Regions from separate parts of the Homo sapiens genome. Here regions 1 and 3 are each linked to region 2. Evidence: fine-mapped expression QTL. A gene starts in region 2. Each other region holds a variant in brackets. All regions are shown on one strand. Distances are from middle to middle.

What was found. PIP is the estimated chance that this variant, and not a neighbour inherited with it, causes the effect.
Region 1: its variant is fine-mapped to the expression of FAM184B in putamen (GTEx, PIP 0.98).
Region 3: its variant is fine-mapped to the expression of FAM184B in ovary (GTEx, PIP 0.92).

What each region holds. Positions count from the first base shown.
Region 1 is chr4:17,634,198-17,636,958 of GRCh38, forward strand. It overlaps FAM184B (family with sequence similarity 184 member B), which reads right to left. Exons shown (of 18, transcript NM_015688.2): 15 at 2,331-2,448; 16 at 812-916. Among named protein-coding and RNA genes, the nearest start is that of MED28, 21 kb to the left of the region's middle. RefSeq lists a silencer at 2,591-2,680. The variant C/G (reference allele first, on the strand shown) is at 1,390.
Region 2 is chr4:17,779,886-17,782,646 of GRCh38, forward strand. FAM184B (family with sequence similarity 184 member B) reads right to left here and starts at 1,736. Exons shown (of 18, transcript NM_015688.2): 1 at 1,274-1,736. The coding sequence starts at 1,414.
Region 3 is chr4:17,642,241-17,645,001 of GRCh38, forward strand. The region is part of intron 12 of FAM184B (family with sequence similarity 184 member B); the gene reads right to left. Among named protein-coding and RNA genes, the nearest start is that of MED28, 29 kb to the left of the region's middle. The variant G/A (reference allele first, on the strand shown) is at 1,373.

The sequences.
Region 1 (2,761 bases), 150 kb before region 2:
CTCAAATGCATTTATTTAAATTTCTGGAGTGAAACTTGTATTTTGTCACAATGAGGGATACATAAAAACTACACGAGATGACATTAGTTAAGTCACAAGTGTATTGTCCTGTGAACTATTTTTAAAAATACTATTTTTGTTTTTAAGATGTAGCCTTGCTCTGTCACCCAAGCTGGAGTACGGTGGTGCGATCTCAGCTCACTGCAACCTCCGCCTCCTGGGTTCAAGTGATTCTCCTACCTCGGCCTCCTGAGTAGCTGGGATTACAGGCATCTGCCACCAAGCCCAGCTAATTTTTGTATTTTTAATAGAGTTGGAGTTTCACCACGTTGGCCAGGCTGGTCTTGAAATCCTGACCTCAAGTGATCCACCCACCTCGGCCTCCCAAAGTGCTGGGATTACAGGTGTGAGCCATTGCACCCAGCCAAAAATACTATTTTTTAAGAGCCTTTAGGATTTTGTGATAGTAGATAATTGAATGTGAATATGCTCATTGTGAAAAATTCCAAAAATATGTACAGAAATAGTTAAGAAGTGGAAGATTCTTACTCTTCTCCCTCCCATCACCTAGATAGAGCTATTCTTAATACTGACACACATTTATTCTAGAAAATTTGGAAAATACAAAATCCCATAAAAAATAAAAATCACACATAATCCGCCCAGCCATAGATATAAACAAGTGGGTTTTTTTTTTCCAATGAATATTTTTCTGAGCGTACACCAGCCCTTAAATAACCTGTGGTTACCTTTAAGAAAAACGAAACCAATGGAATTGTATAATGCATTAAAACCATTAGAACCAATTTACCTTCATGGAAGGGGTCAAATATCCCGGGTGAGGATTGAAAGAGAAAGACCGATTCCGGTGGGACATGGCACTGGGGAATGCTGCGTAGTGAAATCTTCTCTCTTCCTAGAAAACCAATACAACTGAGTCTAAATGAGCCTAACCACACAGCACTGGGTTTGACTTGAAGGAAGATGGCTGTGAGGGCAGAATAGAGAAGGAAAGTCCAGGGGAGGAAGGGGAAGTCAGTGGGAATAAAGCTGCCAGGCACTGAAGCTTTTGAGGAAGCACCTTTGCTTTTTTTATGTCCCCAGCCCCTCTTGTAAAGAAAAGGGCAAGCTGATGCCTTAGGAAATTGAAAATTCAACTGTTCTTAGCATGTGAAGGTAACCTAATGCAGAAAGTTAGTAATTAAGGCAAAGAAAGAAAACCCCCAGGTATGCAAAGGATTTTGCCGCCTTTCTTCCTCTGTCTTGTTTGACATTTGTGTTGCCTAACATATACAAACATAGGGAGAGTAATGAAATCCATCCCCACTTTACCTATAATAACTATATGGCCGATCTTGTTTGTGTGTATCATTTTCCACTTTTTTCTCT[C/G]CTGCTGTATTATTACTAAATTCCAGTTATTACATAATTTTTCTCTGTAAAAACATCAGTATGTATTTCTTAGAAATAAGGATTACTTTAAAAAAAAAAAAACCCATGATACCTTTGTTCACACGTAGCAAATGAGCAATAATTCCATATCAATGTCACCTAATTTTCAAAGCACAGAGAGATACAGAAGTGAGGCAGGTGAGCAGGAGCAGAAATGACCAGCAGGCCTTGGTTGGATACTGAATCAGAGGGAGCTGGGTTCTTTCCAAGGGGCTTAGGGAGTGGCTTTGCTAAGTAGAAAACAGGTGGTCATTTTTACAAAAAGAAGATCAACAATAAAAACACTAATTCTACTACAATTCAAACCTAAGCCATTATAGATTTTCTCAAATTCTGTAAGTTAAAAAACCAATATTAACATGGGGCAAATGCTGTTGGACTTGGGAGTAAAGTGATTTTTTTTTGCCTCCTATTTTCCTGTATTAATTTTTTAGTGAGTATGTCTTCTTTAATAATAGAAAAGAAAGGAGTTTTTCTTTGAGACAGTCTTGCTCTGTCGCCCAGACTGGAGTGCAGTGGCGCTATGCTGGCTCACTGCAACCTCTGTCTCTCGGGTTCAAGTGATTCTCCTGCCTCAGCCTTCCTAGAAGCTGGAATTACAGATGCCCACAACCACACCCAGCTAATTTTTGTATTTTTAGTAGAGACAGGGTTTCAACATGGCTAGGCTGGTCCCGAACTCCTGACCTCAAGTGATCCACCCGCCTCCGCCTCCCAAAGTGCTGGGATTACAGGCTTGAGCCACCGCGCACGGCAAGAAAGGATTCTTTGTAAGATATTAGGGCACCTAGAGAAATGCTGGGTGCAAGTGAACGCCCCTCCCGGGGGAGCCCGCAGTGCCCGGCCAGGTGCGTGGGTGAGGCGCCCCCTGACAGCCTCACCGTGAGCTGCTTGATGATGTCCTCTCTCTCCTTCAGGCGGGTCTGCAGGCGGCCAATGAGCTGAAGGTCCTCGGGCCTGGACGCTCCCTTCCCTGGCTTCTCTCCGGAATCTTTCAGTCTGTTCCAAGCAGGCATGCAGTCAAGTCCCCCTTACAGCAATTACTCAACAAAGAGGGAGAACAAGTGCACACGATGGGAATGCCATCCTGTGTTCAGCCCGGCCAGGGAGGCCCAGATAGCAGCAGCGGCTTGCCCAGGGCCCCCTGGGGAGATGGCTTGCCGAACCCAGGATTCCAGCTCTGTCAGGTCCCCTGAGGCTGCAGGGCCAGGAAGCAAAGGCCCCTGTGTGCACATAGATGCTGCACTCAGCGGGGCTTCAAGAGCCAGGGATGCTGCTGGGAGAACAGACCAGGGCAGGAAAATGTCCCGTA
Region 2 (2,761 bases):
ACTGTGCCAAGTGCCTTTTCAGGTACTTGAATAAATACATGTTTTGGTTGATGTCACTATTTACATGAATGTAGGTTAGATCAATAGTACCAGCTATACATGTCAAGAACGCTAAGGGCTATCTCCAGTCTCTTTTTTCATTCCTTGACCAAAGAGAGCCCTGTTTGGAGACAGGCTCACGTGCAAAGAATGTGAAGTTAATGAGACAGGTGGGAGAAGGCGGCTAGTGTTCAATTCCAAGCCCCTGTGCTCTATTCCTCCTGGCAAAATAGTGAGGTTGGCGGGACAGGGGGAGGGGAATGTCTGTGATCCCACAAAAAAATGTGTGGGAAGTGAGAGGGAGATGGTGAGGAAAGAGAGCATGTTCCAGACGCTACAGGACAGACCTGGACCTGACCTCTCCCTGGCGGGCATGGCACCAGGAGTTTATTATGAGACCGAAAGGAAACCCCAAGGCAAACAGCTAAATTCATCCACTTGAAACCTTGTATAGGAGACAGTGAGGGATGTTGTTTTCCATCTAGACAAGGCACAGAGGGGAGTCTGTGACAAGGAGCTTCTAATTGGGGAGCTGCAGAGGGTTAACAAAGAGCACTGGTGGCATCTTTTTGCTGGTCTTCTTGAAAAAGACATAGTCTGGGAAGGTTCAATCAGAGCCCCCTGCACGAGGTAAGGAGGTGGGCTGGCTGACTTCCCTAGGTCCTTCCTAATCCCATAGTTATTTGGTGAATCGTGCTCTTCCCCATTTATGCTCCTACACACGTCTGCACCCAGTTTGATAGTAAGTCCCCTAGGCTGCATTCCAGGTTTAGTACGGTGCCACGCAAGCTGCTGGCACTCAACAAATGACGCAAATATTTGTTGAATGAAGGAATAAATGGATCAAGTGTTTAAATAGAGCCCACATGACCTCCCCAGCTGTAAAGTATGGCAGTTGAATGAAATCACAACATTCTAGGCACTTGAGCAAAGCTGGCGGGGACACACACACACACACGATTCACATTCCCACCTTGGAAAAGCACAGACCACCTGCCCAGCCAGCAGGCTGTGGGAGTTTCCTTGGCAAGGATCCTCTTTCTCTGCTGCTTTAGGATGGTGCCTCTAGAAGGTCAAGTCACCCAGATTTAGGACCGCTTCCCTTCCCGGTTGGCCTCCGAGACAAAGTTTCTGTCTGGATTTGGCCCGGGCCTCCCGGGAGGCGCATCCGCACTGACTCCCGGCTCGGGCGCCCCGGGCGTGCAGCTCGCTGGCCCGCTGCGCCCCACCTTACCTTGGTGAGCTGGGCGATCTTCTTGCACATTTTCACGTGCATCTGGGGATCACAGTCCATTCTCCAGCCGGCGCCACCGTCGGCTTTGGAGCCCTGGCAAGTGCCGGGCGGGTTAATTTTGCTGTTGAGAGCAGAAGCCATCGCTAAAACGCGCCCAGCACTCAGACTCTCTCGTTTTCTCCCTGCCCACCGTGTGCACGTGCGTGCGCGCGCGGGCGTGCGAGCGTGTGGGTTTCTCGGGAGAGGTGGCACTGCAGTCCCGTCGCCTGCACCGCCGCGTGGCCCCAGCTTCCCGAAGGTCTCCGCCTCCCGGGCCCACCCGCGCGCCCACCCTTTTTCCTCTCCTGCTGGTTCTCTGGCTGGCTGGCTCCGCGGGCACCCGCACCCTGCGGCGAGGCGTCGGCGCCCCGCACGTGCCGCTGGCGATCAGTCTGCAGTTCCCCAGCCAGTGCAGGTTTCGTGTGCAAGGGGAGAGCTTCCGCGGCTAGGAGCTGCCGGCCTTGGGGGGTTTGCGGTGGGCGGGCACTGCGCTCTTGGACACGTGGGTGGCGCGCGGCCCTGGACTTGGTGGCGACGGACCCTGCCCGAGGTGGGGATCCCAGGCTAAAGAGGAAGAAGAGCCTCCGGAGAGGGACAGGGCACAGTGACTGGCGGCCTCCGGAGAGGGACAGGGCACAGTGACTGGCGGCTCCCGAGTCTCCGAGCTGATAGCGGAGATGGCGGTGGGGGACGAGATGCTAAGAGAGGGGCGGGTAGGTGAGGGCGAGCCATCGGGACTCAAGGAGGTGTGGGATCCGGGGCGCACGGTGTGGGCCAGCGCCTGAGTTGCGCGAGTGCACAGCGGGGCTGGGGATGGTAGCCTTCCTTTTTGGATCTTGGAGAGGAGCCAGGACATTGCGGGAGGAATACCGGAGATGCCCAAAGAGGAGAAGCCAAGGGGATGGCAGGGTGCGGGTGACCGAAATCTGAGATGAGAAAGTGCGAAACGGGTAATGCGGGAAGCGGTAGGAACGCAAAGACAAAGTCGTTAGGGAGGTAGAAAGGATGGTGGCAGGTGCGGGAAAGGAAGAAGCAAAGAGGAATGGAGCAGTTAGATGAGTAAAAGATGGAACTGAAAATCTTAGCAAACCGAGCCCATTGAAAGTAAAGTGAGTCGTCCAAATCCACACTACTGGCCTTGGGCAGACTGGAGCCAGACTGTCAAGTTTTCGGATTCTGAGCTGGTGTCTGTTTAGTGTTTGGTGAGGGGAGAGGTTAGCGGGCCAAATTTCTTTCTGGCGTGTTCTCTGGTTTCAGACAGTGGACTTTAAGGGAAAGTGACAGCACCGTGATCAGCTTTTCCTAAAGCTCGAATAATAGGTCTTCATGATAGTTTGCATAGTGAATGTATATCATTTATACATTGCCTTTTATCAGAAATTTTAATAATCTTCATAAACCAAGCAAGCTTCAAAGGGTCTCAGAAACCACAGTTCCACCCATCCATAC
Region 3 (2,761 bases), 140 kb before region 2:
ACCAGGAGAGGTGTTTTCAGGAGGCGCAGGGGCAGACAAGGCAGAAAGGGCCAGAGATGTGCTGCGGCGAGATGGAGACCCACTGGCACCCCGCCCAGGCTGGAGCCTGTGGCAGGCTCCTGAGTTCCCTGCAGGGACTCCCATCTAGTCTCTTAAAAAATTTCCTCCTTTGGGAGTTGGCCAAATCTGGCCCTTAGAGTTTAATAAAACTGCTGAGCTAAGAATGGGTCTTGCATCCAAATGAACACCAACCACACTCCACACTCCACCTGCCAGGGTGCCCTCCATGCCTGCCTCAGTGAAGTCTTCCCTCCGTGAAGTTAAGTGTTCAGTGAAGTGATACTGCCTCAGTGAAGTCTTCCCTACCTCTCAGGGGGAACTGATAAGCTTTCTCTAATACCACCAAATCTTGCTAACTCTGGCTCTGTAAGGGGTGACACTGAAGAGAATATGTGTCCATGCTGGTTTCCTTGGCTAGATTGGGAGCTATTCCTCTCTTCATCTTTCCAACCCTGTAGCACCTAGCCTGGTGTATTCTATAGGTGCCACGTGAATGCTTGCTAAACAGAATTGTGCTAGAATGTCTGTAGTTCAGGTAGAAACACAAAAATTGCTGTCCAACAGCAAATGGAGTCAGATTTAATCTGTGATTAGTGAATGTTCCAGTTTTCAAATTCACTCAAACATGCCCGACCACTTGTGCATGTATTAGTTCACTGCACACAGTAATTGCACAGCTGTGCACGGGGAGAATCTGTGGCCCAGGCCCCATGTCTCTGCCTTCCTGCTCTGGGGTTGGCATGATGTGGGATGCCCGTGGGCACCCACTTGGCACTCTCACATGCATAGCCTGGAAGAGCAAGAGCAGGGGGGTTACTGCTCTGTGGGGACAATCCTTGACCAATGGAGGACAGAAACAGATGGAAAAATGCATTCCCCTCTTGGGTCTCTGGGTGGGAGAGATATGAGAATTAGATCCCAGTAGGACAGACTCCACTTAGCTCAGCGGTGGCCAGCTTGGGCCTGCAGCCTGGCATTGTGTCCCCTCCCCTTTCCTTTTTGACTCCTGCTGCCTGGGCTGTTCCTCTTTGCCGACACCCCTGCATCTCCTCTCTGTGTGGGGTATCACCTGAGACCACACTTTCCTTCTAGAGGGTTCAGGGCTTCCCTCCTATGGGGCAAAGGTGAGGGCTGGTGCATGGGTGGCCACGTATCGGCTCATGTACTCAGTGCTCCTTGGCTTCTATCCAGAGCCCTCAGGTGAACACTGACTCCCTCCATGGCCCAGTCCCCAGCTGTCTCCATCCCACATTTCCCGTCCCCTCCCATTGGTACCAGTGGCTCCCACCCATCTAAACACTTAATGGAACAC[G/A]TTCTGTCTTCCCTCTGCTAGACCTAACCACTGGGCTAACCTGTGATTCATCATTTGTTAATATTTTTCACATAAACACAGAAATTGCCTTCCTATGCTCAGCAACAGCTAAATCTGGCACACATGATTCCCATGTCCCCCGGTCCTTCAGCAGGACTGGCCACCAATGAATCCTCACCACCCACAGGCACTGGTGGAGACCCTGCTGAGGGCTGGGAGTGGGGGTGGGGAGGCGATGAGGCAGGCAGACAGGTTATCCTCAAAAGACTCCTGATCCAGTCTAGGCAACAAGGACATCTATGAAATGGCATGTCCCCAACAGGACCGGGCGGTAGATCCTAGAGCCAGCTGAGCTGTCTTGACAACAAGTGCTCCAGGATCTCAGAGCCAGAGGGGGCCACTGTGTGCCAGGGAAGGCCCCCAGCATGAGATATGCTGGGCAGCATCTCAGGCAGGAGGAGTGGCACAGGCGAAGGCCAAAGGGAGGGTGCAGATGCCGGGTTTATGAGCCGCAGGGAATATGGCAGGACATACAGGTCATAATCAGTGGTGGAAGCTTTTCAATGCCAAGTTGAAGCATTTGGAGCTTTCTCCAATGGGAACCACCAAAGGCTTTATGAAAAGTGATGCTGGTCATCCTAATACCAAAGCCTGGCAGAGACACAACAAAAAAAGAGAACTTTAGACCAATATCCCTGATGAACATTGATGTAAAAATCCTCAATAAAAGACTGGCAAACCAAATCCAGCAGCACATCAAAAAGCTTATCCACCATGATCAAGTGGGCTTCATCCCTGGGATGCAAGGCTGGTTCAATATACACAAATCAATAAACATAATCCAGCATATAAACAGAACCAACGACAAAAACCACATGATTATCTCAATAGATGCAGAAAAGGCCTTTGACAAAATTCAACAGCCCTTCATGCTAAAAACTCTCAATAAATTAGGTATTGATGAGATGTATCTCAAAATAATAAGAGCTATTTATGACAAACCCACAGCCAATATCATATACTGAATGGGCAAAAACTGGAAGCATTCCCTTTGAAAACTGGGACAAGATAGGGATGCCCTCTCTCACCACTCCTATTCAACATAGTGTTGGAAGTTCTGGCCACGGTAATCAGGCAGGAGAAAGAAGGGGTATTCAATTAGGAAAAGAGGAAGTCAAATTGTCCCTGTTTGCAGACGACATGATTGTATATCTAGAAAACCCCATTGTCTCAGCCCAAAACCTCCTTAAGCTGATAAGCAACTTCAGCAAAGTCTCAGGATACAAAATCAATGTGCAAAAATCACAAGCATTCTTATACACCAATAACAGACAAACAGAGAGCCAAATCATGAGTGAACTCCCATTCACAATTGCTTCAAAGAGAATA